3 separate regions of the Homo sapiens genome follow, and all the other regions are linked to region 2. Evidence: fine-mapped expression QTL. A gene starts in region 2. Each other region holds a variant in brackets. All regions are shown on one strand. Distances are from middle to middle.

Region 1 (10,841 bases), 64 kb after region 2:
CTCCCTTCTTTGGGGAAAGGCTGAGCCATCTGGGGCCCCTGCTCCGTGCTGAGCTGTGTTGGGAAGGGCGGTAGGCCCTGGTGCCGACTGGCCAAGGACCATCTTTTTTTTCTTTTTTTTTTTTTTTGAGACAGGGTCTTGTTCTGCCGCCCAGGCTGGAGTTCAGTGGTGCGATCTCGGCTCACTGCAATCTCCGCCTCCCGGGTTAAAGCGATTCTCCTGTCTCAGCCTCCCGAGTAGCTGGGATTACAGGCACGTGCCACCACGCCCGGCTAATTTGTTGTATTTTCAGTAGAGACGGGGTTTCACCATGTTGGCCAGGCTGGTCTTAAATTCCTGACCTCGGGTGATCAGGTGATCCGCCTGCTTCTGCCTCCCAAAGTGCTGGGATTACAGACCTGAGCCACCGTGCCCGACCTGGCCAAGGGGTTTGAACTGTCCTGCAACTGAGGCAGATAATTCATTCCTTAGAAACGGAGTGCTGAAGATCTGTGGAGAATGAGAGCAGATTAGTGGTTGCCCGGGGTGGAAAGGGGCATCGCGGATCTTATCTGGGTAATGGAAATATTCTAAAACTGAGCTATGGGCCAGGCGTGGTGGCTCACGCCTGTAATCCCAGCTCTTTGGGAGGCCAAGGTAGGAGGATCCCTTGAGCCTAGGAGTTTGAGACCAACCTGGGCAACCTAGTGAAACCCTGTCTCTAAAAAAAAAAAAAAAAAAAAATTAACTGGAGATGGTGGCATGCGCCTGTAGTCCCAGCTACTTGGGAGGCTGAGGCAGGAGGATCGCTTGAGCCTGGGAGTCCAAGGCTGCAGTGAGCTATATGATCAGGCCATTGCACCCCAGACTGGGGGATAGAGCGAGACTCTGATGGGGGAAAAAAAGGGTTATGGTGATGGTTGCACAACTCAGTAAATTTCTAAAAATCAGTAAGTATACACTTAAGTGAGTGACTTTTATGTAAATTATACCTCAAAGTTTTTTTTTTTTTTAATTGATTATTGGGGGAGGAAACAGAGGAAAGAAGAGGGCCTGTCATCTTGCTTTAGGATCCCTTCATTTAGCAAGTTTTTATTGGGTCTCTGTTCTAGGTGCTCAGATATAGTGTCTGGGTCAAACAGACATTCCTCTCCTCCTGGAACTTATGTTTTAGAGCAGTGCTGTTCAGTAGTAATAAAATGCAAACTTCAAGCACCAGCCACTTATGTAATTTTACATTTTCTAGTAGCCATGTTTAAAAGGAACAAAATGTAAAGAAGGCAGGTGTGGCGGCTGGCACTTGTAGCCCAGCTACTTGTGAGGCTGAGACAGGAGGATCACTTGAACCCAAGAGTTGGAGACTGCAGTGAGCTATGGCCCTGTCTGTGTAGAGCCACTGCACCAGCCTGGGCAACATAGTGGGACCCATTCTCTTAAAAAAAAAAAAAAATGGCTTGGGACGGGTGTGGTGGTTCACACCTGTAATCTCAACACTTTGAGAGGCTGAGGCAGGAGGATTGCTTGAGTTCAGGAGGTCAAGACCAGCCTGGGCAACACACCCAAACCTAAAAATCAAATAAATAAAAGTAAATAATAAAATAAAAGAGAAAGAAACACAAGTGAAATTAATTTGGTAATATTTAATCCCAAATATTTCAACACATTATCAGTATAAAAACTAAGAGATAATTTACACTTTTGGGGCTGTCTTTAAAACCCCACATATACAGTATTTTACATTCACGGGACATCTCAATTCAGACCAGCCACATTTCCAGGGCTCCATGGAACCTTGTAGCGAGTGGCTCTGGTACTGACAGCATACCTCTACAGGGGGACAAGCAAATGCATTTACTTTTTTTGTTGTATTTTTTTGATACAGGGTCTCACTATGTCACCTAGGCTGAAGTGCATTGTTGTAATCATGCCTCGCTGCATCCTTGACTTCCTGGGCCCAAGCTATTATACCACCTCAGCCTCCTGAGTAGCTGGTACTACAGGCCTGCACCACCACACCCAGCTAATTTTTTGTATTTTTAGTAGAGACAGGGTTTTGCCATGTTGGCCAGGCTGGTTTTGAACTCCTAGGCTCAAGCAGTCTTCCTGCCTTGGCCTCCCAACATGCTGGGATTACAGGAGTGAGCCACCGTGCCTGGCTGCAAATACATTTATAATGCAGTATGTTATACCTTGAAGAAAAACAAAGGAAAGAGGATGGGGTCAGAGGGTATTGTTTTATACAGGTCAGTAAAGGCTTCTCTGGTGAGATTGCATTGAGCAGAGATCTGAAGGAAGTAAGGAAGGGTCCTATGAAAATATCTGGGGGAAGAAGAGAGGGAACAGCACGTGCACAGGCACTGAGGCAGGAAGATGTGGAACCCTTTTGAAAGACAGCAGAGAGGCCAGGCATGGTGGCTTATGCTTGTAATCCCAGCAATTTGGGGGGCCCAGGTAGGCTGATCACTTGAGCCCAGGAGTTCGAGACCAGCCTGGCCAACATGTTGAAACCCCATCTCTACTAAAAATACAAAAAATTATCTGGGCATGGTGGTGCACACCTGTAGTCCCAGCTACTCGGGAGGCTGAGGCATGAGAATCTCTTGAACCTGGGAGGCAGCGGTTGCAGTGAGCCGAGATCACGCCATTGTGCTCCATCCTTGGTAACAGAGTGAGACTCTGTCTCAAAAAAAAAAAAAAAATCAGAAGAAGAGAGACCAGTGTGGCCAGAACCACGTGAGTGAAGAAACTAGGGGCAGATGGCATAGGGACTTACAGGTCATGCTAAGGCAGGAATTAAACTCCTGGAAACAATTTCAGAGGGTTCTTCCTTTATTTAGCACACTTTTTGTTTTGTGGGGTTTTTTGTTTGTTTCTTTTATTTTCTTTCTTTTTTTCTTTTTTCTTTTTCTTCTTTTTTTTCTTTTGAGACAGAGTCGCGCTCTGTAACCCAGGCTGGAGTGCAGTGGCACCATCTCGGCTCAATGCAACCTCTGTCTCCTGGGTTCAAGTGATTCTCCTGCCTCAGCCTTCTAAGTACCTGGGATTACAGGCTCGTGCCACCACGCCCAGCTAATTTTTTGTATTTTTAGTAGAGACGGGGTTCCACCATGTTAGCCAGGATGGTCTCCATCTCCTGACCTCGTGATCCACCCGCCTCAGCTCCCAAAGTGCTAGGATTACAGGTGAGAGCCACTGTGCCTGGCCTTCTTTTCTTTTTCTTGTTTTCTTTTTTTTTTTCGCTTATTTAGCACACATTTTAAAAATGCTTTGTTTCAGCCATGTAATCTCTCTTCTTGATGGAGGAAATAAGGATCCTAGCCACTGGACAGATGAGAATCTAGTTAAAAAACAGGACTTAAGCTCCTGAAATAAATTAGCATCTTCTGTCATTGATAGACATTGAACACTTCATGGACACAGAAGATAAATGCAACACATAAACAAAAAATTAGCATTAGCCAAGCATGCTTGTAATCCCAGCACTTTGGGAGGCCAAGGCAGGTGGATCACCTGAGGTCAGGAGTTCGAGACCAGCCTGGCCAACATGGTGAAACGTCCATCTCCACTAAAAATACAAAACTTAGCCAGGTGTGCTGGTGCGTGCCTGTAATCCCAGCTACGCAGGAAGTTGAGACAGGAGAATTGCTTGAACCTGGGAGGTTGAGTCTGCAGTGAGCCGAGATCGCACCATTGCACTCCAGGCTGGGCAACAGAGCGAGACTCTGTCTCAAATAAAAAAAAGCATTTAGCATTTATTTTAAAGGCCTACAAATTAAGGTGACAACCTAATAAAAAAAAAGAATATAAGATTTGAAGAGGCACTTCATACAAGAGGAAACATGAAGTGAGGACTAACCACAACAACAAGAGAATGCAAATTAAAACCAAAGATACCGCAGCACACCTACCACTTCGGTGAATCAAAAAACATTTTTTTTTTTCTGTTTGCTGAAGCAAGACGAACTGAGTATACAGGACTAGTGACAGGTAAAATTGGTAGAACCACACTGACAAACCCAGGGGTTAACTCTAGAAAACTTCTTGATCATGTGCGCCAAGAGATGCAACAGAAGAACAAGCAGCAATGTTTGTAATAGCAAAAAAAAGAACAGAAAAGAAAGGAAAGAAACAGATTGGATCCTGGATTCTGGATTGAATAATCCTGGAACAAGATAAATAAATAAATAAATAAATAGGCCAGGCATGGTGGCTCACGCCTGTAATCCCAGCCCTGTGGGAGGCCGAGGCAGGTGGATAACTTGAGGTCGAGAATTTGAGACCATCCTGGTCAACATGGTGAAACCCCATCTCTACTAAAAATATAAAAATTAGCTGGGCATGGTGGTAGGCACCTGTAATCCAGCTAAGGCTTAGGAGGCTGAGGCAGGAGAATCGCTTGAATTTGGGAGGTGGAAGTTGCTGTCAGTGAGCTGAGATGGTGCCACTGCACTCCAGCCTGGGAAACAGAGTGACAGTGACTTCATCTAAAAAAAAAAAAAAAGACATTACTTAAAAAACTAGAGAAATCTCCAACAAAGGCCAGGCATCTGTAATTCCAGCACTTTGGGACCCCAAGGCAGGAGGATCACTTGAGCTCAGGAGTTCAAGA[C/G]CACCCTGGGCAACTTGGTGAGATCCTGTCTCTACGAAAAAATTTTAAAAGTTACCCAAGCATAGTAGCACACACCTGTGGTCCCAGCTACTCCACAGGCTAAGGCGAGAGGATTGCTTTAGCTCAGGACTGCATTCCTATCTGGTTAACAGAGCAAGACTGTCTCAAAAAAAAAAAAGAAAAAATCTCAACAAAGATTGGAATTTAGTTAATAGTAATGTATCCACTTTTTGGGGTTTTTTTTTTTTTTTGAGACAGAGTCTCGCTCTGTCGCCCAGGCTGGAGTGCAGTGGCGCAATCTCAGCTTGCTGTAAGCTCCGCCTCCCGGGTTCACGCCATTCTCCTGCCTCAGCCTCCCGAGTAGCTGGGACTACAGGCGCCCGACACCACGCCCAGCTAATTTTTGTATTTTTAGTAGATGGGGTTTCACCGTGTTAGTCAAGATGGTCTCGATCTCCTGACCTCGTGATCTGCCGGCCTCGGCCTCCCAAATGCTGGGATTACAGGCGTGAGCCACCACGCCCAGCCTTTTTTTTTTTTGAGATGGAGTCTGGCTCTGTCTCCCAGGCTGCAGTGCAATAGCATGATCTTGACTCACTGCAACCACCGCCTCCCAGGTTCTGCCTCAGCCTCCAGAGTAGCTGGGATTACAGGCGCCCGTCACCACACCCAACTAATTTTTATACTTTTAGTAGAGACGGAGTTTCACCATGTTGGCCAGGGTGGTCTAGAACTCATCCTGACCTCAGGTGATCCGCCCGCCTCAGCCTCCCAAAGTGCTGAAATTACAGGCATGAACCATTGCACCCCGCCTGTTTTGTGTGTGTGTGTTTTTTTTTTTTTTTTTTTTGAGACAGGGTCTCATTCTGTCGCCCAGGCTGCAGTGCAGTGGTGCCATCTGGGCTCACTGCAATCTCCGCCTCCCAGGTTCAAGCCATTCTCCTGCCTCACCCTCCTGAGTAGCTGGGACTACAGAAGTGCACCACCATGCCTGGCTTATACATTTTTTATTTTTTGGTAGTGACGGGGTTTCACTGTGTTAGCCAGGCTGGTCTCAAACTCCTGGCCTCAGGTGAGCCGCCTGCCTCGGCCTTCCAAAGTATGAGGATTTTAGGCATGAGCCACCGAGCCTGGCCAATGTTTTTGTAGTTTTGACAAATGTATAGTTGTGTCACTTAACAACGGAGATCTGTCTGAGAGATGTATCTTCAGGTGATTTTTTCCTTGTTGCGTGAACGTCGTAAGCTGTACAAACCCAGATGGTATAGCCTAGCACACAGCTAGGCTGTATGGTGTAGCCTATTGTTCCTAGGCTACAAACATGCAGCATGCAACTGTACTGAATACTGTAGGCAGCTGAAACACAAAGGTAAGTATTTGTGCATCAAAACATAGAAAGGTACAGTAGACCAGGCGTGGTGGCTCATGCCTGTAATCCCAGCACTTTGGAGGCCGAGGCAGGTGGATCACCTGAGGTCAGGAGTTCGACACCAGCCTGGACAACATGGTAAAACCCCATCTCTACTTAAAATACAAAAATTAGCCAGGTGTGGTGGCAGGCACCTGTAATCCCAGCTACTTGGGAGGCTGAGGCAGGAGAATCACTTGAACCTGGGAGGCGGAGGCTGCAGTGAGCCGAGACCTCGCCACTGTACTCCAGCCTAGGCGATAGAGCGAGAGTCCATCTCAAACAAAAAAGAAAAGAAAAGAAAAGAAAAAAGAAAAGGTACAGTAAAAATACAGTATTATAATCTTACAGGACCTCTGTCATATGTGTAGTTCTTATTGGCCAAAACGTTGTTATGTGGCACATGACTGTCCTGTGATAAAGTAAGATGCCAACATCAGGGAAAGGGTGAGGGGGATGTGGTAACTCTTTGTACCATCTTTCCAAGTTTCCAGTAAATTTAAAATTACTCCAAAATAAAAAGTTTAGGGTGAAAAAAGAAGGAAAGGAAATGAAAATGTCCACCTATAGGAGACTGGATAAATCGTGGTATAGTTATTCAATGGAGTATTATGCAGCAGTGAAAATGAGTCAATTTCCATTACACACAGCAACACAGATGTGCTCCCATTTACATATAACATTTCAACAGGGTGTGGTGAATCGTGTCTGTAATCCCAGCACTTTGGGAGGCCGAGCCAGGAGGCATCACTTGAGGCCAGGAGTTCAAGACCAGCCTGGACCACATGGCAAGAAAAATTAAAAATAAACTGGGCATGGTGGCGTGATCTGCCTGTAGTTCCAGCTTCTCAGGAGGCAGAGGTGAGAGGAACACTTGAGCCCTGGAGGTCGAGGTTGCAGTGAGCCATGATCCCACCGCTGCACTCCAGCCTGGGCAACACAGTGAGACTCTGTCTCAAAAATAAATATCATTTCAAAACACAGGCAAAGCTAAACAATAAGCAGTTTAGGGACATAGATAGAATTATTATTTTTTTTAAAGTAAGGGAGCCAGGCATGGTGGCACACACCTGTGGTCCCAGATACTCGGGAGGCTGAGGCAGGAGGATCACTTGGGACCAGGAGTTCTGGGCTGTAGTACACTATGCCAATGCAGGGTCCACGCTAAGTTTGGCATCAGTTTGGTGGCCTCCTGAGAGCGGGGGATCACCAGGTTGCCTAAGGAGGGGTGAACTGGCCCATGTTGGAAATGGAGCAGGTCAAAACTCCTGTGTTAATCACTGGTGGGATCATGCCTGTGCATAGCCACTGCACTCCATCCTGGGCAACATAGCAAGACCCTATCTCTTAAAAAAAGAAAAAACTAGCCAGATGTGGTGGCATGTGCCTATAGTCCCAGCTACTCAGGAGGCTGAGGTGGGAGGATCGCATGAGCCCAGGAGTCCGAGGTTGCAGTGAACTATGATTGTACCACTGGACTCCAGCCTGGTCTACAAAATGTGACCTTATCTCTCATAAACAAAACAAAACAAAATAAAATGGAAGCCCCTGAGAAGCTAAGGGAAAAGATGCTCTTCAGAAGGAGAGGGGTACACCCTGGCCGCAGGTTCCTCTTCTCTGCCAACCTTTTCCTGTTGTCTCCATCTATTCACTTTGTTCAGCATTGCTTTCTGTGATTTGTCTTTTGAATCACGTCCTTCAAGCATTCTCACACTCCTCACTCCTCTCGGCCTCTAAAGGACTCACCTGGCCAAACTCCAGCCATCCTCTTCTCTGTGCCAGCCGAGCCCAGCAGAAGGAAACCACCCAGCCAGCCCAACGGGTTTTACCTGAATCAGAGAAATCACAGGCCTCAGACAGGCGCAGGGCACTCTCTATGTGTCTCTGGTGTGCTTACATTTCCCCCCTGCCCTCCAGCCCATGACTAGGTCCCACACTTCCCTGTGCACATAGAAGCCATCAGAAGGGAACCCCCTTGTCATCTGTCCCTGTGATTCCCTCTCTCAAGGATTGGGGTCTCCCTCCCTCCTTCCTTCCTTCCTTCTTTCCTTCCTTCCTTCCTTCCTTCCCTGCCTCCCGCCCTTCCTTCCTTCCTTCTCTCCCTCCCTCCCTGCCTTCCTTCCTTCCTTCTTCCCTTCCACCTCCCTCCTTCTCTCCCTCTTTCCTCTTCCATTGAAGTTTCTCCTCCTCTCCTCCTCCTCCCCCCTCCTCCTCTTCCTCCTCCTTTTCCTCCTCCCCTCCTCCTCCTCTTCCTCTGCCTGTCCTCCTCCTCCCCTCCTCTTCATCCTCCCCTTGTCCTCCTCCTCTTCCTTTCCCCCTCCTCCTCCTCTTCCTTCCCCCTCCTCCTCCCCTCCTCCTTCCCTCCTCTTCCTCTCCTCCTCCTCTTCCTCCTGCCCTCCCCCCTCTTTCTCCTCCCTCCTCTTCATTTCCTCCTCTTCTCCTCTTTCTCTTCCTGTCTCCTATATCATTCATCATCTCTCTCTCCTTCTGCCAAATCATGCCCATCACTATCCTCAAATGCTCCTGCCTCTTCCATTCATTTTTTAAAAAGAATTCCTCCCTTGAGGGAACCGAGAGATAAGAGAGACTGTAGCCACAAATCAACCACATGCAACCCAAGGACTTTGGATGCTGAGTCGAACAGACCAATGTTTTGTTTCGTTTTGTTTTTAAATTATCAGACAAGTAGAGAAATCTGAACTCTGACTGCCTATTCGATGATAGGAAAGAATTATGGTGCATTTTTTAGATGGATCACGGGATTGTGGTTATATTTCTATAAACAAACCTTATCTCCAGAGATATGAAATGAATAATCTGTACATGAAATGATGTGATGTCTGGGATGTGTTTTAAAACTATCTAGTGGGGTGAGGGTGGGGCCAATGAGAGACGGTAGAAATGAAACAGCATTGGCCATGAGTTGATAATTGGTGAGGCCCAGTGACCGGCATGTGGAGTTAATCATACTCTTTTATTTTTATATATATTTGAAAATGGGCTTATTTAAAAGTGATGTAAAAATTCCTCTCTTTGGCTGGCTGCAGTGGCTCACACCTGTAATCCCAGCACTTGGGGAGGCCAAGGTGGGCAGATCACCTAAGGTTGGGAGTTTGAGACCAGCCTGATCAACGTGGAGAAACTCTGTCTCTACTAAAAATACAAAATTAGCCAGGCGTGCTGGTGCATGCCTGTAATCCCAGCTACTGGGGAGGCTGAAGCAGGAGAATTGCTTGAACCTGGGAGGTGGAGGTTGCAGTGAGCCAAGATCACACCACTGCACTCCAGCTTGGGTGACAGAGACTCTGTCTCATAAATAAATAAATAAATAAATAAATAAATAAATAAATAAATAAAATACAACAAAATCACACAATAAAATCCAACATCCCTCGCCACATCCTGTAAATCTGGTCTGTCCACCCTCTGGCCTCACCTCCACTCTCTGTTCAGGCTTGCTCTCCTCCAAGCACACCAACAGAGCAAGTTCCTATATGCTGTTCCCTCTTTCCAGAAGATTCACCTGGCTTCTTCCCTCCCCTCCTCAGTCTATGCTCAATTGTCCCCTGCTGGGAGGTTCCTTCCACTGACTATTCTCTCCAGTTTATTTTCTTCGGGAAGCTCATCTCTACCTGACATCACGTCACACCTGGTTGTTTGTTGATCGTCAGTCTCTCTGCTAGAATGTAAGCTTCATGCTGGCAGGGGCTTTGTCTGTTTTGTTGCCTAGAACAGTGCCTGGCACGCAGTAGATAATTAATTTTTTTTTTTTTTTTAGAGATGGCATTTTACTCTGTTGCCCAGGCTGGTCTGAAACTCCTGAGCTCAAGCGATCCCCCCACCTCAGCCTCCCAAAGTGTGTGAGCCACTGCACCCAGCTAATAATTAATACTTTTTAATTTTTTTTGAGACAGGGTCTCACTCTGTGGCCCAGGCTGGAGTGCAGTGGCACAATCAAAGCTCACTGCAGCCTTGACCTCCCCAGGTTCTGGTGATTCTCCCAGCTCAGCCTCCTGAGTAGATGGGACTACAGGCATGCACCACCATACCCAGCTAATGTTTGTGTTTTTTGTAGAGACAGGGTTTCGCCATGTTGCCCAGGCTAATCTCAAACTCCTGGGCTCAAGCAATCTACCCACCTTGGCCTCCCAAATATTACTTTTAAAATAAATGAATTTAAATCTGCCAGTCTCTGACAAAATCTTATTTGGCCACAGTTGCTTTGGATGTAAAAACATGCATAAGTAAGGCTGGGTGCAGTGGATTTACCCAGACAGAGCATTACCCAGCATTTACCCAGACAGAGCCGGACACGATGGCTTATACCTGTAATCCCAGCATTCTGGGAGGCTGAGGTGGGTGGATCAATTGAAGTCAGGAGTTCAAGACCAGCCTGGCCAGCATGGTGAAACCCTGTCTCTATTAAAAATACAAAAATTAGCTGGGTGTGGTGGCTTGCGCCTGTAATTCCACCTACTCAGGATGCTGAGGCACGAAAATCGCTTGAACCCAGGAGGTGGAGGTTGCAAGGTTGCAGTGAGCTGAGATCGCACCACTACATTCCAGCCTGGGTGACAGAGTGAGACTCTGTCTCAAAAAAAAAAAGATGTGGCTGGGCATGGTGGCTCATGCCTGTAATCCCAGCATTTTAGGAGGCCGAGGTGGGCAGATCACTTTAGGTCAGGAGTTCAAGACTCAGGAGTTTGAGACTAGCCTGGCCAACAAAGTGAAACCCCATCTCTATCCAAAATACAAAAATTAGCTGGGTGTGGTGGCACACACCTGTAATCCCAGATACTCGGGAAGCGGAGGCATGAGAATTACTTGAACCCAGGAGGCGGAGGT
Region 2 (10,841 bases):
GCTCAACTTCCAATGACAATACCTACTAATAAAGATGACAGTGAGCCCTTAATAAACATTAGCAGAGCCAGGCAACGTGCTCCCACCACTTCCCACACATCGTCTCATTTATCCTTAAAACCACCTGAGGAAACAGTTACCATGATTTTCATTTCACAGATGAAGAAACTCCCTCTACACGTTTGTATCCAAGAGGAAGGAAGTTTTTATTTTGGCTATTTTGGGGACAGGGGAGGTGGCTGGGAAACATCAGGGATGAGGAAAAGCCCCAGGGAACAGAGCCGCCATTCAGAACCTGCAGGATCCCCAAACGGCACAGCAGGCACTCTGGATTCCCCAGGAGACACGCAGCAGGGAGGAGGAACTAGTGTGCCTGGACTCAGCCATCCCCTTCTGCTGCTGGCTCACTGTGCTGTAGTTAGGAAGTCTCCGTCTTTTTGCTTCCAGAGCAGAAGTTTGAGCTGCGCCCCCATCACCAAGGGGAGGAACAGGTATGGCTTTGAGCTTCTCCTAACTGGCTGGTGCTGTCGCCTTCAGTGGCTGCTGGTGCATCAAAGCCCCCTAGCGTCTGGCAGCCCAGAAATAATGAAGAGCAAGGGTGGCATCTGAGCACCAAGGCAGGCGACAGCACAGACACCCATCGCCTTGCGTCCCAGGTGCGGGCTCTCTGACTTGCCCTTTGACAGGGGCAGAGGCCCCTCAATGTGGGATGCTGTCATTGCTGGGGTTCCCAAAGGGGAAGGGAGAGGCACCAAGGACAAGCTGAGCCGCAACGCTCCCTTCTCCAGTCCCGGCAGCTACCAAGGACCTTGAATAAAGGTGGGTTATGAAATGTTGAACACAAGCAAACCCAGATCAGAGAGGAGGAGGTGCCTGAGTGATTCCCGCCCGCCAAGCAGGTCCTCCCAAGCTGGCCTCTGGCTGTGCTCCCAGCTCCCAGGCACACAAGCTCCGGTCAGGCCAGCCTCCCATCCTCCCTGCCCTCTGCCCTAACCTCACTCATACTCCCACAGCACCAGGTCAGCTCCTCTGGGAGCTGGAAGGAACTGAGATGAACACACCAGCTCTTTTTTTCACATATTTGGAGAAAACAGCCATGGGAGGACAGTTAAGAGGGTGGCAGCTCTCCAACACACCTAGTTTGCCAACATCCTTCCTAAATGTAGTGCCCAGAGATGGTCATGAACCTTGAGGAGAAACTACCGTGGTAGCACAGCAAAGGGGCTAAGTGAGAAGGCTCTGGAATCACACAGAACTGGGTTTGAATGCCACTTCTCCCACTTACTGTGGGGCTGGGCAAATAAGTCAACTTCTCTAAGCCCCCAAGTTTCTCTACCTCCACGGGGATTTTGTAAGGACTAAATCCATACCATCCATCAGCAGGTTGAGCCTGGCCCAGGCCAGGGTCTGAGTCAGAGCGAGCACTTAATAACCAGCATCTGCTAGTATTACCGGCACTGCAACAGCCTCCTGCTGTCACTCTCCCCCACACCAGCTGCTGCAGTCCTTTCTAGAAGGCAAACAGGAGCTCGCCAGGATGGGCCTCCCTTAGCCTCCTCGGAGATCTTCAGTGCCTCCTCCAGGCCCAGCCCTTGCTCACCAGACCTTCCTTGTCTGGCCTCACCTGCCGCTTCCACCTTTATGGTCTAACGTGGAACTCCCTGTGTTCCATCTTCCTAAGGCATGCTCCATAATAATCCTTGCCTGGAGTGCTGCTCCCTGCCAGAGAGCACCCCAGAACTCATGTTCATCCCCCCAGGGTTGGGGCCTCTCCCCCAGGAAGCCATTTCTGATCCCTCTGGATCTCAGTTCCCTGTCTTTCCAGGCAGAACCTCCCGTCACGGTAGATCTCTGTTGCACCATCCCTGCTGCCTAGAGCACCCTCCCCGGCCCCACTCCCCAGCAAGTCCTGGGATTCCTTGGGGCCCAGCTCACTCCTCACCAAGAGCCTCCCCCTGGTTCACGCTGCTTCCTCTGAGCTCAGACAGTCACAGGAATGACATCATCGAGCCCCTCCTTACAGTAGGTAATTCCACTTTATTGGTGTTTGCTGTTCATCCTGCCTTCCCAATCAGGTAGCAAATGCCTTGGGGCTGACTTAGCTGCTCCCTCCAAGCACACAGTCCAACAGCCCACTAATCCCTGGGCCAAAGGGACCAGACACCCAGAGCCACCCAGGAAAACTATCACCAAAAACCCAGCTCGTGGCCCCACCCCCAAACACAGCACTTGAACTTCTCCCCTTGTGAAGAAAAAGAAACACACACACACCCTCTCTCTCCTCGCAGCCTCTAAAATAAAACATTTTTCACCTAATCAATCCAGTCCATCAGCCCCGGATGTTTCTCCACACCAGGCAATTCGCCATCATGTTCTTCAAGTTATTTTGCTAAACATTATCCAACCTCAAACAAGGGGCGTGGCCTAGAGCCCTTTTCCTGTTCCTTCCTCTCTTGTAAAGATCCCTCTCCTTCGTGTCTTACCAGCCTCTGCCAGGCTCCTACCACAGTCTCTTCCCATCCCCAGGCCCTCCTCCCAAACCCCCTTCTCCAGCCTTCTGCAGATGTTCCCAGTCCCACCACCGTCCCCAGGCTCTGCTTCTGAGTGGCCACCACACACTGTTCTCTCTACAAGCCCACTAGTCCTTTCCCAGGTCTCCTCTCAGTTTCCACAACCTCCCCTTGACCCTTTCGGGTCGTCCCATCAGCACAGATCCCACCACCTCCCACACCACCGCCCCCTGCCAAACTCCCTTCTCCTTCCTCTGCCCAGAGCCTCATGCTCCTCTCAACCCTACTAAGTCTTCGTGGATCCCTTTTCTGTTCCCTTTCAGCTCCTCTTAGCACACTCATGTTTCTCAGTCTCTCCCTCTCCTGACCCCTCCCAGACCTCTCCGCTCGGGCGTCCACCTTGAACCCCCATCAGCTCTCTGCACGCTCCGAACCTGTTTCCTTCTGGAAGTCACATTAACAACAGCTAACACTCTCAGAGATGTAACTCCACGCCAGGCTCAATTCTAACACTCATAGCAAATGGGAGGTAGGTTTGATTTGTGATCTCCTTTAGCAGGGAGACTAAACAATTTACCCAAAGTCATGAAGTAAGTGGCAGAGCTACTTGGGCTCTTGGCACTTCTAAGCCACTACAATTTATCACAGGATGGTCGTGTCAGCTTTTAGGAGCTAACGTGAGTTTTATGCCACGTCATATGTGTTAGTTCTGTCTCCCAGGCCTTTTCCCATCCCTCTTCTCAGCATGTCTCTGTCATCCCTATTACTCGAGGATCACACAGCAGGAATTTGATCCCCCGTTTTGGTTCTCTCAGTCCCCCTGTCTCTCCCTGTTATCCCTCCATCTCCTTGGCCAAGCCACCACCACGCATTCCCCCACCCAGGAGTCTCCAGCCTCAACCCAGGCCTCCTCAGGCTTTTTTCTTTCTTTCTTTCTTTTTTTTTTTTTTTTTTTTTGAGACAGAGTCTCGCTCTGTCCCCCAGGCTGTAGTGCAGTGGCTCGATCTCGGCTCACTGCAACCTCTACCTCCGGGTTCAAGTGATTCTCCTGCCCCAGCCTCCCGAGTAGCTGGGATTACAGGTACCCGCCACCAGGCCCAGATAACTTTTGTATTTTTAGTAGAGACGGGGTTTCACCATGTTGTCCAGGCTGGTCTCGAACTCCCCGCCTCAGATAATCTGCCCACCTCGGCCTCCCAAAGTGCTGAGACCTCCACAGTCTTGACTCCATCATCCCGGGTTCCTCCGTTCAGCTGTCCTTAAACTAGTCACTGCTAACCAGGGCCGTACTCACCCCATGCACCCCCCACACTTCAGACGCGGCTCACCGCTCCTAGGATCATCTAGCCCTGAGCCCCTCTGCCTGGTGTCAGCCCCCTTCAGCCTTCACCCTCACCGCCCAGGGCCCACGCAAATCCACTGCTCCAGGGGTTGAAAAGGTCAGTCCCTCGGGCAGGCGTCCTCAGCCCCAGGCCCCATCACTGCCGCCTGAGAGCCTTCAAACAGACTCCCCTAGAGCTCCGAAAAGCCTCTGGACCTGGCTTCTCTCCCGGACTCCCTCCGTCCCCCCAGGCCGGTCCCCTCCAAGGCTTCAGGACGTACTCCCTCGGTCCAGGTTCTCCCCCGCCCGCTGGCCTGTCTTCGGCCTGGGTCCCCTTCCTCGCCTCAAGATAGTGTCGCCTCGGTCCGTGTGTCCTCAGCCCAAATCCCTTCCGCCATGTCAGACCGTCTCTCCTCAAACCGTGTTGCCCCGGCCCAGGCTCTTGGCCCTCAGCCTGCGTCCCCTCTGCCGCCTCAGGCCATGTCACCTTATTGCAGGTTCCTCTCCGTCCCCTCGGCCCGAGCTCTGCGTGCCCTAACCCGCCACCTCCGAGCGTGACTCCTTCGTCCTCTCAGCCTAGGTCCCGGCCGACCCCTCAGCCCGGTTCTCACCCAAAGAGGCCAGAGAAGAAGGACTGCGAGTTCTTCACTTTGCGCTCCGCCTCGGCCAACAGCGCCATCGCCTCCGCTTCCTTCCCGGAATTGTCCATGGCGGCCACAAAGGGACTCAGCAAAGCGCCTGACCCTGACCCTGGGAAGACTCAGCCGCGGCCGGGCCGCGGAACACAGATCGGTAAAACTCGCCCGGCTGCGTTGACGTCGCACCGGCGCGCGTCGCTTGCGGCCAGGAACCACGTGACTAGCGCTGGCCAACCAGCGGCCTCGTAACGCCGCGCCCGCTCCGCCGGACACGCCCCCACCAGCCGCCGCACGCCGCCCGTGACTCGTGACCCCCCAATCGGCGTCAAGAGACCTCAACGCATGCGCACATACCGGCGAACGGCGCTCCACTCTCTCCCCAGCGCTCTGTACCTCACCTCCCACGTGACCCTGTGGAAGGCAATGGCAGTACCCCCCGCCGAGGCCCCGCCCCACGGTGTTGCTGCTGGATCCTCCTCCACCAATCAGCAGGAGCCCTCGGCTCGCGCTGGGGCGGGGGGTCCCCCACTCGCCCTCCCCGCGGAACTCTGGCACAGTCAGCTGACCGCAGACACTCACGTGACAGCTCGGGGCCCACGCCCGGGTTTGACAGTTCTGCGCAGAACTTAGTCCCGCCCCCGCGGCTGGTCTCGCCGGTTTCTTCACTTGGAAAGGCGTTTGTGGGAAAAGGAAACCGTTCTGCTTTTTCTTGCTCCCTCTGTCGGCCAGTACTAGAACTGCTTTGGGGAGACCGGTGAAGAGAGACTGCAAACAAAAACTTAAGAGGTTCTCTAACTCTGGTTTCATAAAAAATAGCTGAAGAGGGCCGGGCACGGTGGCTTACGCCTGTAATCCCAGCACTTTGGGAGGCCGAGGCGGGCGGATCACTTGAGGTCATGAGTTTGAGACCAGCCCGGCCAACATGGCGAAACCCCGCTCTACTAAAATACAAATATTAACCGGGTGTGGTGGCACACTCCTGTAATCCCAGCTACTGAGGAGGCTGAGAGAGGAGAATCGCTTGAACCGGGGAGGTGGAGGTTGCAACGGGCCGAGATCGTGCCACTGCACTCCAGCCTGGGCGACAGAGTGAGACTTAGTCTCAGAAAAAAAAAAAAAATAGCTGAAGAGAGCGTGTTAAAAAAAAATTCAGATTCGAAGATGGGCGCGGTGTCTCGTGCCTATAATCCCAGCTACTCGGGAGGCGAGAGGATCGCTTGGGCCCAGGAGTTTGAGTCTAGTTCAAGTCCCGCCTTGGGCAACATAGCAAGACTCTGTCTCTAAAAAAAAAAGTTTAGGCTCAAACACACCTCCTGCTGTCCCAGAAAATTGAGTTGCTGGTTTCTGAGACAGGGTCTCACTCTTTGGGTTGTTGGTTTTGGAGACAGGGTCTCGGTCTGTCGCCCAGGCTGGAGTGCAGCAGCACAATCATAGCTCACCTCAGTATAACTTTGTAGTGCCAGAAAGGAAGGAAGTATTCCACACGTGTGCTCACACACAAAATTAGGGGGTATGCCAAAGGAGCCAACTGAAAGAACTCCCAATGGCCAAAGCTGGAACAATTTGAGCATCAAAATAAAGTAGTATTGGATTATAATCCCAAACATAAAGTATCCATGAGCCTATGGTCATATAGATGAATATAGAACAAATAAATAAAGGGGGGAGAATAGACAAATAGTTTGTGCAGAAGAATTCCAAATAATCTGCGTAGATACTCTGCTCTCAAGAAGGTGAAGGATACCTCCCCATTCTGTAAGTATGGACTGTGCATAGTGACTTCCTTTCAAAGAAGAGGGTACAAGAAAGGGGAGAAAAAGCCTAAATTTACAGTGGAGAAACCTGACATTGACATCTAGGTGATTGAGGTTAACCTCAACATTGATAAGTCATGTGATTAAAATGGCTCTTTACTTCTGGGATCTTTCAATCTAATCATGAAAAAAACACTAGACAAATTCCAGTTGAGCCACATCCTCCAAAATACTTGCCCAGTACTCCTCAACACTGTTGGTGGGTGCAGTGTGTCACATCTGTAGTCCTGGTACTTTGGGAGGCCAAGGCAGGAGGATCACTTGAGGCCAGGAGTTTGAGACCAGCCTGTCCAACATGGGGAAACCCCGTCGCTACTGAAAATACAAAAAACTTAGCCCGGTGAGGTGGTGCATGCCTGTAATCACAGCTACTTGGGAGGCTGAGGCAGGAGGATCACTTGTACCCTGGAGGTGGAGGTTGCAGTGAGCGGAGATTGCCTCACTGCACTCCAGCCTGGGGGACAAGAGGGAGACTCCGTCTCAAACAAATAACACTGTCAAGTCATCAAAACAAGGAAAGCCTGAGAAACCATCACAGCCAAGGAGACGTGACTGCTAAATGTAATGTCTTACCTTCGGTGGGATCCTGGAACAGAAGGGCATTGAGTTAAAAAACCAAGGAAATTGGCCGGGTGCGGTGGCTCATACCTGTAATCCCACCACTTTGAGAGGCTGAGGCGGGTGGATCACCTGAGGTCAGGAGTTCCAGACCAGCCTGGCTAACATGGAGAAACACTGTCTCTACTAAAAATACAAACATTAGCTGGGCCTGGTGGAGGGCGCCTATAGTCCCAGCTACTCAGGAAGCTGAAGCAGAATTGCTTGAACCCAGGAGGTGGAGGTTGTGGTGAGCCGAGATTGTGCCACTGTGCTACAGCCTGGGTGACAGAGTGAGACTCCATCTCAAAACAAACAAAAACACTAAGGAAATCTAAATAAACTATGAAGTTTAGTTAATAATATTGTGCCATACTGGTTCATACGTGGTAATAAATGTACCATTCTAATATAAGATGTTAATCATAGGGGAAACTGGGGTATGTGGGAATTTTTTTTTGCTGTCATTGCAGTTTTTCTACAAATCTAAAACTATCCTAAAAATCTTCTTTAAATAAAACAGTTTCCAAGGCCGTACCCACAATGGTTCCAATTCTGAGTCTGTGGTGGGTCACAGGAATCTGCATTTTTAAAAAACAGAACCCTATATAATTAGGATGCAGCCAGACCTGGTGGTTCATGCCTGTAATCCCAACACTCTGGGAGACCAAGGCGGGAGGACCGCTTGAGCCTAGGAGTTAAGGACCAACCTAGGCAAAAAGCAAGATCCTATCTCCACAAAATTAAAAAAATTTTAATTACTCCTTGGGAGGCTGAGGTGGGAGGATTGTTTGACCCCAGGAGTTTGAGGCTGCAGTGAGCTATGACTGTGCCACTGCACTCCAACCGGGACAACAGAGTGAGACCCTGTCTCATCTCAAAAAAAAAAAAAAGTAAAATTAGGATGCAGATAATCCCGGGACCACAGTTTGAGAAACCGCTATTATCTAGGGGGTTGGCTGAGCCGAGCAAGGCATAAGAAGCCTTCCCCCAACTCTCTTCATACATGAATAGACTTGCCTGGACCACCTACTTGTGGTTGCCACTGTGTCCTGACCACAGAGCAGGTGGGGGTGAGCCTGGATTACCACAAGCGGTTTTGGTTCCATGTCTGTCAAAGCAACACTATGTAAAAGCTTCTGTTTAAGCTGTTCCATTTCAGGGTAATTTGTCATGCAGCAACAGATAATATAACCCCTCAGCCTTTTCAACCAGGGAATTTTTTTCCATTTCCAGAGTTCATTGGATTTATTTAGGATGGGATCCAAACAATATTAGCAATCACATGAGAGCTTGTTAACTAGTAGCCATTCAGTTCTTATGGTGCACCCTCCCAAGTGCTTAATTTACATTTTATTTCTATTTATTTATTTATTTTGACATGGAGTCTTGCTCTGTTGCCCAGGCTGGAGTGCAGTGGCACGATCTCTGCTCACTGCAACCTCTGCCTCTGGATTCAAGCAATTCTTGTGCCTTAGCCACCCAAGTAGCTGGGATTACAGTCATGTACCACCACACCTGGCTAATTTTGTATTTTATATTTTTAGTAGAGATGGGGTTTCACCATGTTGGCCAGGCTGGTCTCGAGCTCCTGACCTCAAGTGATCCGCCCACCTTGGACTTCCAAAGTGCTGGCATTACAGGCGTAAGCCACCACGCCTGGCCATAATTTACATTTTATTTAACTGATAGGTTGCGGGGGTTGAGGAGGGGCAATTTTCATCCCATTTTACAGATTGAGAAAACTGAGGCTCCCACAGGGAAAGTGATTCGCCCTAGTTTACAAGGAGGTAAGAGGAGCCAGGATGGAATTGAGGTTCATCTCACACCTGAACCCTTTCCCTTAACTGCAGTGTTCCAACTGCTTCAAACTCAGCGTCCACCTCTGCCCCACTCCCAGCCAATCTTTAAGCCTTAGCTGATAGGTGGGCCCTCTGTGAAACCTTCTCACGCTGCCGTCTACTTTCCCAGCTCTTCAGAACACGGCTCACCCTATCATAGACACGATCACACCCTGATGCAATCAATCCTCTGCAGTCAATTCCCCATCTGAGCTAATGGCATCAACTACAGCTGCTCAGGCTCAAACCTGCCCTGCTGGCCTTGATCTGTCCTTTCCTTGACCACCTCCCACTGATGTGTGAGCCACTGACAACTCTGTCGCCCAGGCTGGAGTGCAGTGGCGCGATCTTGGCCCACTGCAACCTCCACCTCCCAGGTTCAAGTGATTCTCCTGCCTCAGCCTCCTGAGTAACTGGGACTACAGGTGTTCACCATCATGCCTGGCTAATTTTTTTGCATTTTTAGTAGAGACGGAGTTTCACCATGTTGGCCAGGCTGGTCTCAAACTCCTGACCTCAAATGATCCACCTACCTTGACCTCCCAAAGTGCTGGGATTACAGGTGTGAGCCACTGCGGAGCCTACCTTTCTTTTCTTTCTTTCTTTCTGATGGAGTCTTCCTCTACCAGGCCGAAATGCAGTGACGCAATCTCGGTTCACTGCAATCTCCACCTCCCAGGTTCAAGCGATTTTCCTACCTCAGCCTCCCAAGTCACTGGGATTATAGTCATGTGGCACCACACCCAGCTAATTTTTGTATTTTTAGGAGAAATGGGGTTTCACCATGTTGGCCACAATGGTCTTGATCTCTTGACCTCATGATCCGCCCGCCTTGGCCTCCCAAAGTGCTGGGATTAGTGGAGAGAGCCACTGCACCTGGCCATGGAGCTGCATCTTGAGTGGTCTAGGCTAACTGTGGTCATTTCCCTTCTCACTAACAGGGATCAGTTTAGAAGCGAACACAGGCTCAATGAGACATACGGGCATCTGCTGGGAGCTGTTAAAAGTTTTCCTCACTCTTAAAAAGGGAGGCAGGGAGGGGGGCTGTTTTCTCTTCTTTCCCCCGCCGCCCGCCCCCTGCCGGTCTGGATTTTGGTTCGAGGTTATTCTCGCCTCTGCTGGAGCCCTCGTTCTGCCCCTGCCCCTGCCCCTGCCAGGGGTCCCTGATTTCAAGGCTGAGCCCCTACTGGGACAGCCAAACTCCATGATTGTTTAAATCAACACCAACTCTTCTGTTACAGTCAAAAGCATTTCCAGTACCATGACCTAAAATCACCTTGTTTGCTTATTACTGCTACCTTCCTGCTCCTACAAGAGAAGGTCCGTGAGGAAAAGGGCCTCTCTTGCTTCACTATCCCTGTTGTACGGATTGGCAACGTCCAGTGCATTCTACAGCAGGTGCTTCGTAGATGTTTGCTGAATGAATGTCCAAATCAACATGCCCGTGTTCTCCCCAAGGCCCCCAGCCCCCAGGGCAGGCCACAGCTGACTCACCTCCTGCCCTTAGCACGTGGTGGGGTTCCTAAGCCTTTATTGGATCAATAGGCAGGGAAGTCAAAGACAGCAGCTCAAGAACCCAATTTAATCAGATTTACGAGTTGACATGTACAAAAAACACCGAACAATGCAGAATTCATCGCAAGACTAGGGACTGAATCTGGAAGGTAGAGTCCCCGCCCCAGGGAGGGGCCCAGCGTGTTGGAGATCTCAAGGTTTTTTCCCACTGATTCTCTAAGTCTTGGCCTTATCTAACACATGAAACCAAACCCCACAACTGAGGCTAAGATTTAAGAGCTACCCAGAGCTAAATTTTCCCCTCCCCAAGCCTCCCTGCTCTAGAAGTGGAAGGGAAAGAAGGGGAGAGACTATGAACCTAAGGAGAGTGGAGCCTCCAGCACCACCGGACAGGGACTGCATAGCTGTCCGACAACTGAGCTCCTCCTGCCTATCTGTGGCCAAATGCCCTCCATGTTTGCAGGCAGGTTGGCCAACAGGGGACAGGGAGGGTGGGGGGAGGCAGAGGGGTGCCCCAAACGCCCTGGAGAGGCCGAAGGGAGGAGGGGCAGCACTGGAGGCCCCATTCGGACTTGCTGCCACGGGAGTCACCACTGCAGGGGGCC
Region 3 (10,841 bases), 540 kb before region 2:
CTCTGGATACACACTCTCCCAGCACCTCGATGTGTTTACCAACCCAGAAGCTCTACAGACCCTGTCACTGAGGGTGTTTATGGCGTTTCTGTGATGTCCGCTTGATTGATTAACTCATTGGCCATTGGTGATTGAGCTCAATCTCCAGCCCCTCTCCCCTCACCCCCAGAGGTCGTGGGTGGGGCTGACAGTTCCAACCCTCTAATAAAGGTTTGGTCTTTCTGGAGACCAGCCCCCATATCCTGCACTATCTAGGGGCCCACAAGAGTAACCTCATTATCATGAAACTCAGGTTTGGTTGGAAGGGGCTTGTTTGTTCTGAGACGGAGTCTCTCACTGTTGCCTGGGCTGAGTGCAATGGCACGATCTCGGCTCACTGCAACCTCCGCCTCCCGGGTTCACACAGTTCTCCTGCCTCAGCCTCCTGAGTAGCTAGGATTACAGGCGCATGCCACCACACCCGGGTAATTTTTTGTATTTTTAGTAGAGACAGGGTTTCACTATGTTGGCCAGACTGGTCTCGAACTCCTGACCTCGTGATCGGCCTGCCTCGGCCTCCCAAAGTGCTGAGATTACAGGCATGAGCCACCATGCCTGGCCAGAAGGGGCTTGTTAATGAGTAACAAAAGATACTTCTATCACTCAGGAAATTCCAAGACTTTGGGGAACTCTGTGCTAGGAGCCGGGGACAAAAACCAAATATATATTTCTTCTACTACACTGCCCCATCCCCTCCTGCAGGGGTCCTAAATTTAAGACCTTGCTAGTGGGCTTCCTGCACCCTTCTGAGGGTGCGCAGGAGAGGAGGCTGCCAGCCTCTACATCTGGAAGGAGCACCAGGGAGGGCCCAGCCTGGGGCTGGGAGCTCAGGGGCCAGTGTGCCGCGGCAGCACAGTGAGAATCCTGGGCCTGTGTGGGGCTTGTTCTTCACTTTACACCCCATACATGGTTTATTAGTTAATCTCCCGTGAGCCAGAGGACAGTATTAATCTCAAAGTAATGCTAATCCCTTTTTACAAGAGGAAACAGAAATCCCCAAGTCCTCTGGCAGAGGCCGTTCACAGCCCATCAGAATGGAAAAGGCCTACGTTCCAGCCCTTTTCCTGTCTTCTCTGCTTTAGGCTGATGAAGCTGTGAGTTTTATAGCATTGGACTGAGCAGATTCAGAATTTTACCAAATACCTTCCCACTTGGAAAACAGCCACCCTGCAAAAAACCTCCGTGTTTCCCTCCACATTCATCATAGCCACCAGTTCCTAGAGCTATCATGAAGGAGAGTTGGCGGGACGAGAGCTGTTAAATTCAGTTAGTTACTATTTCCCTGCAGTCAGCCTAGATCTATGTAATTCTGTCTTTCAGAGAAGGCAGCTAATTTCAGTATAGATACTCCCATCTATCACTGTAACAGTTTAATAGGTACGGTTATAGCTTGAATACACCAACAGGCTTTATGTGAGTAATTGCCGTATTTGCACTGCTTTGAATTGATAAAGTGCTAAAATATGAGGTATACTGTTTCATATGCTGTGATTTTTATGGGGGCTGTCTGTTACTTAATCTCTCTCCCTCCCCCTGTAATTCTAGTTTTACTAACAAATTGCTTTCCCACAGTCCAAATAGTTTTAAAACAAAGCTTTCTCCTTTTTTTTTTTTTTTTTTTTGCTACCATTCCTCACCACCCTCCCGTTTTTCTGCTTGCTTATAAGTTAAGCACAAGTCACTTGCATTCCAGAAATTCCCCATTGCCATAAAGGCAGGCAGTCAGCTCGCCAGCTCTTGCCTGTTCCAGATAAGCAGGGTTCATTTAGCTTGTGACTCGGCATTGCTAGCGGATTTCCTCAGGCCCCAGTGCCCTGATCAGAACAGTGTGCCCTGGCACACCGCCTGGAGAGCCCAGCAGCCAAGGAGAAGTAGAGCTTGTTTCACAAAGTAACCCTGGCCTTCCATCCAAGACAGAAATAGTCTGGGTGGCGGCCCAAGGCCCCGAGACGGTTCCAGCCGGCTGCTTTGCCTGGCTGTCCCGGCTGCACTCGCCTTCTCCATGGTGGGGAGCTCGGGCAGACAGGTTGCTCTGGCCTGAGCGTGCCAACCAGGCCCATGGCCTGTCCTGCCATATTTGCCAAGGCAGTACAAACAGGACGGTACAGCAGGCTGTCCTGTGAGAGTGGTCCCAAGGAGCAGTACCCACTCTCGGCTGCAGGACCTTCTCGGGCCCTTGGTGGAGCTGGCCTGACTGTGCCATTGAATTATCACCTGGGGGCTCCGGTGGCCCTTGCTCTTGCTCTGTGTCTGTCTGTTCATCTCACTCACACGCACACCTTCTGTGCTGCCTTGCTCATGAGGTTTCACACCCAGCAAATCCCCATGCCTCTATAACCCCTGTCAGTTTCCTTGACCTCTGCTTTTTTCCTGTTCATTTCACCAAAGCCAGTGAAGCACAGATGAACTAACCTCTTCTCCTCCGTGTTACACTCACTGTAAAAACATCTAAGACCCGCATAAGGTCAGTCTGGGAAGGCTGAGCCCTGATAAAAGGCGACAGAGCAGCCCATTAGCAAGAATGTGGCCAGCTTCTGCAGGGGGCGTGGCCCTGTGGGGACTCCCAGCCACAGCCAAACCATGGCTCTGCCCTGTAAAAGTTAACAGCCAGGTCTGGAGACCAGACTTAACAGCAGCACATGACTGGCTGTGGCGAAATAATGAACCCACTACGTTCCTAGTGAAGTTACCGGGAAGAAGGGGAGGGAGAAGGCTTCTTGGTGAATGTAGAACCTCAATACATCTGGAAAGGAAAGTAGGAGTTGGATGCTCCAGCCGCTTAGGGAGCAGCTCCTCCATGCTGGCCCCAGTAAGGCACAGGCCCCTTGAGAACAAACACTTGAGTCGCCTTCCTCCCTCTCTTCAGCTGGAGAAACGCTGCACTTTTCTTCCTCCTTCCCTCCTTTCTGAAGACAGCTACTGAATGCCTTCCCTGGTACTAGTTACTGTGCAAGCCCAATACACAGACGGGTGATGAGAGGACTCTGCCTGCTCCTGTGAACTCAGGGGTCTACCAGGGGACCAGCATTAAGCAGCTAATCACACAGCTATCCAGCGACTTTCACATGGTGCCCAGGGCTGTCCAGGAAGAGCATGGAGACAGTGCCTTGTGGTGATTGATTAAACACAGACTCTGGAATCGGACTGCCCGGGTGTGAATCCCAGCCCTGCCATCTGTTTGCCACGTGGCTCAGTTTGTTCAGTTATAAAATGGGAAGAAGAATGGTAGAATACAACTCACAGAGCTGGTGTGAGGACTGGGTGAGACAGTGCATGTAAAAGGCTTATGGCTGGCCTTGGCCCAGAGTGCCGGCACTGCGTAAATGTAAGCAATTGTTGGGATCCTATAACAGGAACTTAATTTAGTCTAGGAGTCAGGGGAGACCTCGGAGGGAGCATTGTTTAGTCACAGAACAGAGGTAAAAGTGGAAGGAACAACTGTAGGGAGGCCCTGCAAGTTCATCAGGACTGCAGTGAAGTATAAGGGGAGGGTGGCAGGCTTGAGCCTGGTGACAGGAGCCCCCGAGGCCACATGTTGAGAAGTTTGTGTTGTACCCTAGATTTTTATCCTAGATTGCAGGGACTGGGATCAGCCTTCCTGCCTGAGGCTTACAGGCTTCTGACTCTGAAAAGTATTCTTTCTTAGGGAAGAGAGGCCAGGAAAGGAAGGGACACTGGGCTGTGATTGGTGACATGTTTGCCTCCTTTCATGGGTCATTGGGAATCAGGAACCTGAAGGAAGTTAACCTCTGCCCTCCTTAATGCTTGGGAGGAATCTGCTTGTAACCCCAAGGGGCTTTTCTACTTGGGCCTGCCGTGGAAAGGAAGCGGGTGTTTTGTGTGTGTGTGTAGTGGGGTCTGTGTGTGGGGGGTAGGATATGTGTGTGTGTGGTGGTGGCGTGTGTGATGGGATGTGTGTGTGTGGTGGGATGTGTGTGTGTGGTGAGGTGTGTGTGTGGTGGGATGTGTGTGTGGTGGGGCGTGTGGGGGGGGTGTGGTGTGGTGTGTGTGGTAGGGCTGTGTGTGCGGTGGGGTATGTGTGTGTGGTGGGTGTGTGTGGTGGGGTTTGTGTGGTGGGATGTGTGTGTGGTGGGGCATGTGTGTGGTGGGATGTGTGTGTGGTGGAGTCTGTGTGGTGTGTGTGTGTGGTGGGGCATGTGTGTGGTGGAATGTGTCTGGTGTGTGTGGTGGGATGTGTGTGTGTGGTAGGGGGTTTGTGTGGTGGGGGATTTGTGTGGTGGGGTGTGTGTATGGTGGGGTTTGGTGGGATTGTGTGTGTGGTGTGGGGGTGTGTGTGGTGGGGTGTGTGTGTGGTGGGGTTTGTGTGGTGGGCTGTGTGTGTGTGGTGGGGTTTGGTGGAAAGTGTGTGTGTGGTGGGGCTTGTGTGGTGGGACGTGTGTGTGTGTGTGGTGGGGCAGGTGTGGGGGGGTGTGGTGTGTGGTGGGATGTGTGTGTGTGGTGGGGTGTGTGTGGTGGGATGTGTGTGTGTTTGTAGGGGGGTGTGTATGTGGTGGATGTAGTACACCTGTATTGTGCTCGCGGTCTGTTTCTTTGTTGGTGGATCTTTAGCCTGTAAGATCCCTCACAGTGGTGGCACCAGCTCTCCTCGGAGTCACACTGCCATCACTCCAGTGCCACTGGGCCTGCGTGGGCATGCCAGCAAAGTCACACTTCAGAGCATGAAGACGTCTCACGTTCTTGGCAGGACGGCTCTCCCAGCTGCTCCTGGCTTTGAA[T/C]GTTCACTCCCGTTTTGCAGAGCGCAGTCGGCTCACCTCGATTATGGACCACACTCTTCCTCCAGAATGGGCAGGGTGTCAGCTCTAGGCTGGCCTCAAGTTCTTTGCCAGCGTGGTTTCTTAAGCCCAGCTGTTGGGATATGCATTTTCTTGAAAGTCAGGGAAAAGAATGGAGCCCCCTGTTGGGCTCAGAGCAGGTCCAGAAGTCCTACTTGACGGTTCATGGCAGCAAATGCATAGGCAGCTTCTGAAGGATCAGCCAGATGCTAGAGCCATCTGATCCCCCAGACCTGGTGCGATGTTGCACCTCCTCCCTCCTCCTCAGCCCTGAGATTTATGACATGGCCGTGTGCGCATCGCTGGCATCGGGAATGTATAAAGCCACAGTGCCTGCTTGTGGCACTCACACCCAGTCAAGTCATCGTAATAGAGTGTTAGTGGCCTTCTATCATGGGGGGAAAGTCTGGCACAGGAAGAAGCAGGTCTTGACTGACAGGGGAATTACCTGGGAAGACAGCTAACGAAGGGGCAGGGGAGGGACAGAGGACCCGAGTGTTCAAGGAGGAGAGCAGCCAGAAAACCACCCAGGCACCTCCCGAGCAGGAAGGCAGCAGGGGGAGCTGCGGGGACTCGTGTGATTTCAATAGTAGCGCTTCTGCGGAGAGACACAGCGAGGAAACCTTCTCTATGGAGAGGAGGCCGTCGTTCTTCTCAGGCCAGACATCCTTGCCCTCCAGTTCATAGAAGAGAAAATTGAGGGCCGGGCGCGGTGTCTCATGCCTGTAATCCCAGCACTTTGGGAGGCAAAGGTGGGCGGACCACCTGAGGTCAGGAGTTCAAGACCAGCCTGGCCAACATGGTGAAACCTCGTCTCTACTAAAAACACAAAAATTAGCCAAGCGTGATGGTGGGTTCCTATAATCCCAGCTACTCGGGAGGCTGAAGCAGGAGAATCGCTGGAACCCGGGAAGCGGAGGTTGCAGTGAGCCGAGATTGCACATTGCACTCTGGCCTGGGCAACAAGAGTGAAACTCTTGTCATCTCAAAAATAATAATAATATTTACAGCATCTTGACAGACTCATTAATGATGTCATTACCCCATTTTGGATGAGGATTCCAAGCCCCTGAGAGGAGAGGCGATTTACTCTCAGACACCCAGCCTAGCTATAAGACAGAACCAGGATCAGAACCAAGGTCATTTTGGTGTCAAAGCCATGCATGTTTTAAAATGTTTTTCTACAAACTGTCTTGTTTTGGCCACGCTCTCAGAATAGGTCATGCCTACAGGCAGGTGCCATTGTTGAGGCTTGTTAAGAGTGTAGAGAAAAAAGAATACTGGCAGGCATTGTGCAGTGGACTGTGCATAGACGATCTCATTTATTCCATTGTACGGTCAGATTAGCTGAGGTCAGGGGCAGGATTCGAACCCATGTCTCCCTGACAGCAGAACTCAGGTGCTCATCCACTTGCCAACCAGCTTTCCACTTAGATCATTAGGATAATAGCTACTCTCTCAGCACTAAGTGCTAAGATCTCATTAAATACATACCACCAGGGGATGAGGTGAGAACTGTTATCTCTGTTACACATAGAAGGAAATGGAGACATGATTGCTTTGATTTTGACCTAAATGCTCTCCTGCCCCCTCACCCTTTGATCTTCCATTGAGGTGAGATTGGGGGAGTGCCGCAGTGTGGTCCTCAGAAGACACACCATAGATACACTGTTAGCATTGGATGAAAAAGAAGGGCTTCATACCTTTCCACAGAGGTCGGTCCTCTTCAAGACCATTTGAATTTAATGCTCAAAGAGTTTCCTTCTCTCCCTGAGTGCTCAGCACCCCTCCGGCCTTGCAGTTTAGCCTGCCTTAGACTTAGTCTTGCATGTGTAAAAGAAAAAGGGAATGGTTTATTAGATGCTTCCAGACTCCAGAAAAGTCGACAAAAGTTGTTAGTTAAGTCCTGCCTGGCATGGGGTGTTTTAGAGTACTAGCAGTGCCAATTAAATTTTTTTAAAGGACTAAGTGCTGAGTTTCTATATCTAAATATAGAAAGTAAAAAATAAGCAAGTCTGAGTTCGTCTTGGAGGAAGTATTGATGTGTTGCTAGAAAGGAAACTTTGGAGGAACTGAGTCCTGGTGTGAAGGAGCAGAGGCGAAGCCTGACGCTGGCCGACAGCACTGCTGCTAAGAAGGGCCTGCCTGGGGTCCAGGATCAAAACCTGTTTGGATATTTCAGAAAATCAGGATACCAGGAAAGGAGGTGATTTTCCCCATTGATTTCCAAGCTCCTGAGGGGCATCTCTCCATTTTTTTAGTGTCCGTCCTGCCACAGACACCTCCCAGGAGCAGGGCCAGCCACCACAGCTCTGACAGGGCAGTCGAAGGGCTGAAATACCAGTTCCTAGTCCATGGGGAAGTCCCCACCAGCTCTCACCGGAGGGCCGTCTAGTCTTCCTATGTCACCAAAGTATTTTTTGGTGTTTTGTTTTGTTTTGTTTTGTTTTGTTTTGTTTTGTTTTGTTTTGAGATAGGGTCTCACTCTGTCTCCCAAGCTGAAGTGCAGTGTTATGGACATGGCTCACTGCAGCCTCAACCTCCCAGGCTCAAATGATCCACCCACCTCAGCCTCCCAAGTAGCTGAGACTACAAGCATGACACCATGCCTGGCTAATTTTTTATTTCTTGTAGAGATGGAGTCTTGCTGTTTTGCCCAGGTTGGTCTCGAACTGGGCTCAAGCAATCCTCCCGCCTTGGCCTCCCAAAGTGCTGGGATTATAGGCGGGAACCATCACGCCTGCCCTGCCAAAGTATTTTTGTGGAAGACCAAGACTGAAAACTGTGTAAAGGAGCCGGGTGCGGTGGCTCATGCCTGTAATCCCAGCACTTTGGGAGGCCAAGGCGGGCGGATCACTTGAGTTCAAAAGTTTGAGACCAGTCTAGCCAACATGGCAAAACCCCATCTCTACTAAAAATACAAAACTTGGCCAGGTGCAGTGGCAGGCGCCTGTAATCCCAGCTACTCGGGAGGCTGAGCCATGAGAATCGCTTGAACCCAGGAGGCGGAGGTTGCAGTGAGCCGAGATTGAGCCACTGCACTCCAGCCTGGGCAACAGAGTGAGACTTTGTCTCAAAAAAAAAAAAAAAGATTAAGCAATGCCTAAGGGCTTGTTTTCGTATAAAAAGCAGCAGTTTTCATGCTGTTTGGAAGTGCTTTGTTCCTAAAGTATGTGGTATCTATTTTGCCTGGTATATTACCCCTGATTTTATTGAATCATAGAATTCAAGAGTTCTGACTAAGACTTCTCTGGAGCCTTAGAGCTCTGGCACATCTTCTAGAATGGCAGTTCTCCAAGTGTGGTTCGCTGGCCAGCAGCAGCAGCATCATCTGGGAATGCATTAGAAATGCAGATTTTGAGGCCAGGCGCAATGGCCCACACCCAGAATCCCAGCATTTTGGGAGGCAATGGCAAGAGGATCGCTGGAGCCCAGGAGTTTGACACCAACCTGGGCAACAAAGTGAGACCCCCATCTCTACGAAAAAAAAATTTAAAAATTAGCCAGGTGTGGTGGTGCACACCTATAGTCCCTCGCAGCTACTCAGGAGGCTGAGGTGAGAGGATCGCTTGAGCCTGGGAGGTTGAGGCTACAGTGAGCCAAGATGGTGCTACTGCACTCCAGCCTGAGTGACAAAGCAAGACCTTGTGTACAAAAAAAAAAAAAAAAAAAAAAAAAAAAAATTCTTGGGCTCCCCTCCAAACTGACTGAATCCAAAACTCTGTGGCTGGAGCCCCCGCACCTGCACCGTAACAGGCCCTCCAGGTGACTCTGCTGCATGCTCACTCTTGAGAAATAGTGATTTTGAGCATCATAGAAGAAGAACTCAGGTAGGATTCAAATCCCATCTGTGCGACTCACTCATTCTCTACATGTTCCTTTACCTCCTGGTCTCAGCGTTCCTGTCTGTAGAATGGGATAATAATCACCAGTCTGGAGGGGTTATTGTGAGAACTGCTATGAAAAGGCACGAAAGCACTTAGCACCGTGTGCCTCATACAGAGTAAGCATTTGATAAATGGCTTATCATTATTGTTATTAGCTAGCTTCCTAGACCAGGTATTCATCTTTTTAAACAGTACCCCAGTCAGATGGTTGTCTGGTGAGAGGAGATTCAAAAATTCTGGTCTATTTCAATGAATAACAGCTATGGCTGTTAATAGTTATATATTGAGAGAATATTTGCCATTCTGTAATGTCCATTCTTTTTTTTTTTTTTTTTTTTTTTTTGAGACAGAGTCTCGCTTTGTCACCCAGGCTGGAGTGCAGTGGCACGATCTCAGCTCACCGCAAGCTCCGCCTCCCAGGTTCACGCCATTCTCCTGCCTCAGCCTCCCGAGTAGCTGGGACTACAGGCACCCGCCACCATGCCTGGCTAATTTTTTTTGTATTTTTAGTAGAGACGGGGTTTCACAATGTTAACCAGGATGGACTCGATCTCCTGACCTCGTGATTCGCCCGCCTCGGCCTCCCAAAGTGCGGGGATTACAGACATGAGCCACTGCACCCAGCCTTGTAATTCCCATTCTTGATTGTAGCTCTGTCCCCTAGAACCATTGGAACAAGACTTTTCTACATGGCCTTGTTCAGATATTTGAACATAGTGATCTTGGCTGTTCTGAGCTTTTTCTTGTTCTATTTCCAAAGATTAACTTAAACATAGAAGATAATTGCAGCCAGTAGGGAGGGCTTTTAAAAAAGAAGGAGAGAAACAGAAAAGGCCTGCAGCCAAGGCTATGCTTTGGTGACATGGGTCTTTGGAGATTTCTGGTAGGTAAGGATGCCTGTGAGTTTAAGGTTGAGGCTTTCTCAGATGGACTTGGGAGCCTGCAGTAGACATGGTGGGTGGAGGTCACTGTTGGTAAGAATTCTGCCTTCTGCCACTGGCGGGTGTGGGCCAGAGTCACCCCTAGGGTGTTTCCATGTAGGAACAGTGGGGTGTTCTAGACACAAATGCCTTAATATCCAGCATCTTTGCCAGGGGGTCTGCTCCAGGACCCCAGCCCTTTTCCTGCTGTGGTCTCAGGCCTTTGGCAAGCTGCCCGTGCTCTTTCCAGCGTCCTGTTTCTCACCTGGGTTGCCAGCTCCCTGCAGCCTTGGTGGTGTTTGCAGCCTGCTCTCAGTTTTTTTAATCTTTTTTTAATTGATGTCTAATTAGTAGTTACGATAAATTGCACTAGCCAAGCAAATGCTACCTTTCCTAAATTACGCCGTGGTATTGTGTACGACAGCAGCAGGGTTGCTATTTTAAAATGGGATTGCGTAAAATAAACATGTGCCCAGATGACAGGAAGTACTAAGTTGATGATTAATTGATGCTCTGGTACGGCCTCGTGCTTTCCAGTGCTTCCATTTGTGTGACGATCCATCTAGTGAAGTTTCAGCAGGTCCACACCACTGATAATTGCCAGATCGCTAATTTGCAGTTCGTCTCCTGCCCTCTCATGCCGGGGCCGGTGGCCATTATGAGGCAATGCAGAGCAGTCCTCAGTCCCGCTGAAGGTCAGGGTCACCAGAAGGTGATGTGCGGCCCTCGGCTGGCCAGGTCTTCTGCAGCTCGGAGACTGCCTCTCTACACTGAGACTCAGGAACGGTGACATTGCTGCATTATTCCGGACTCTTGAGACTGGTGCTATTTGTCCTGTCATTTTCTTTGTATTATGTAGGGCTGATATTCAGGGAAAGGGAAAATAACTTAGATTTAGTTTTATTTGTTTTTTTCAAATTAGGAGATGAAGACTTGAGCCTGCTGACACATACCCAAGGCTTGCTCATATGTGAAATAGGTAGAAGTTTAAATATGTCTTGAGAGCAGTTGAGAAAAGAGTCAGTGGAAAAATTACTAACTAGTGCTGGTGAGCAGGGTCTCGACAGCACAGGGGGTACGGGTGTGCCATCTCAAAAGCTGCCCTGGTGCTTAGGCCAGAGGGCTTCACCCAAGTGTGGTGCTGCTTCTGAGAAACGGGGGTGCTGTGGTCTGTACCCCAGCCTGGTGGATTAATAGGAAGC

Alleles and levels. Alleles are on the strand shown, and positions count from the first base shown. SD is a standard deviation of normalised expression in the study named. Not every link is listed here.
For the expression in CD4 T cells of the gene that starts at base 4,663 in region 2, allele C in region 3 goes with a lower level than allele T (large effect, 1.0 SD a copy in BLUEPRINT).

What was found.
Region 1: its variant is fine-mapped to the expression of NAPA in whole blood (TOPMed, PIP 0.92).
Region 3: its variant is fine-mapped to the expression of NAPA in CD4 T cells (BLUEPRINT, PIP 0.95).

Annotation. Positions count from the first base shown.
Region 1 is chr19:47,573,978-47,584,818 of GRCh38, forward strand. It overlaps the pseudogene RN7SL322P. Among named protein-coding and RNA genes, the nearest start is that of ZNF541, 6.2 kb to the left of the region's middle. RefSeq lists an enhancer at 3,898-3,977. The variant C/G (reference allele first, on the strand shown) is at 4,589.
Region 2 is chr19:47,510,401-47,521,241 of GRCh38, forward strand. NAPA (NSF attachment protein alpha) reads right to left here and starts at 4,663. Exons shown (of 11, transcript NM_003827.4): 1 at 4,443-4,663. The coding sequence starts at 4,540. ZNF541 (zinc finger protein 541) reads right to left here. Exons shown (of 17, transcript NM_001277075.3): 17 at 10,290-10,841. The coding sequence ends at 10,824. RefSeq lists silencers at 4,612-4,951, 7,812-8,106 and an enhancer at 5,042-5,311.
Region 3 is chr19:46,974,570-46,985,410 of GRCh38, forward strand. All of the region lies in intron 3 of ARHGAP35 (Rho GTPase activating protein 35), which reads left to right. Among named protein-coding and RNA genes, the nearest start is that of NPAS1, 40 kb to the right of the region's middle. RefSeq lists enhancers at 1,543-2,400, 2,401-3,256. The variant T/C (reference allele first, on the strand shown) is at 4,776.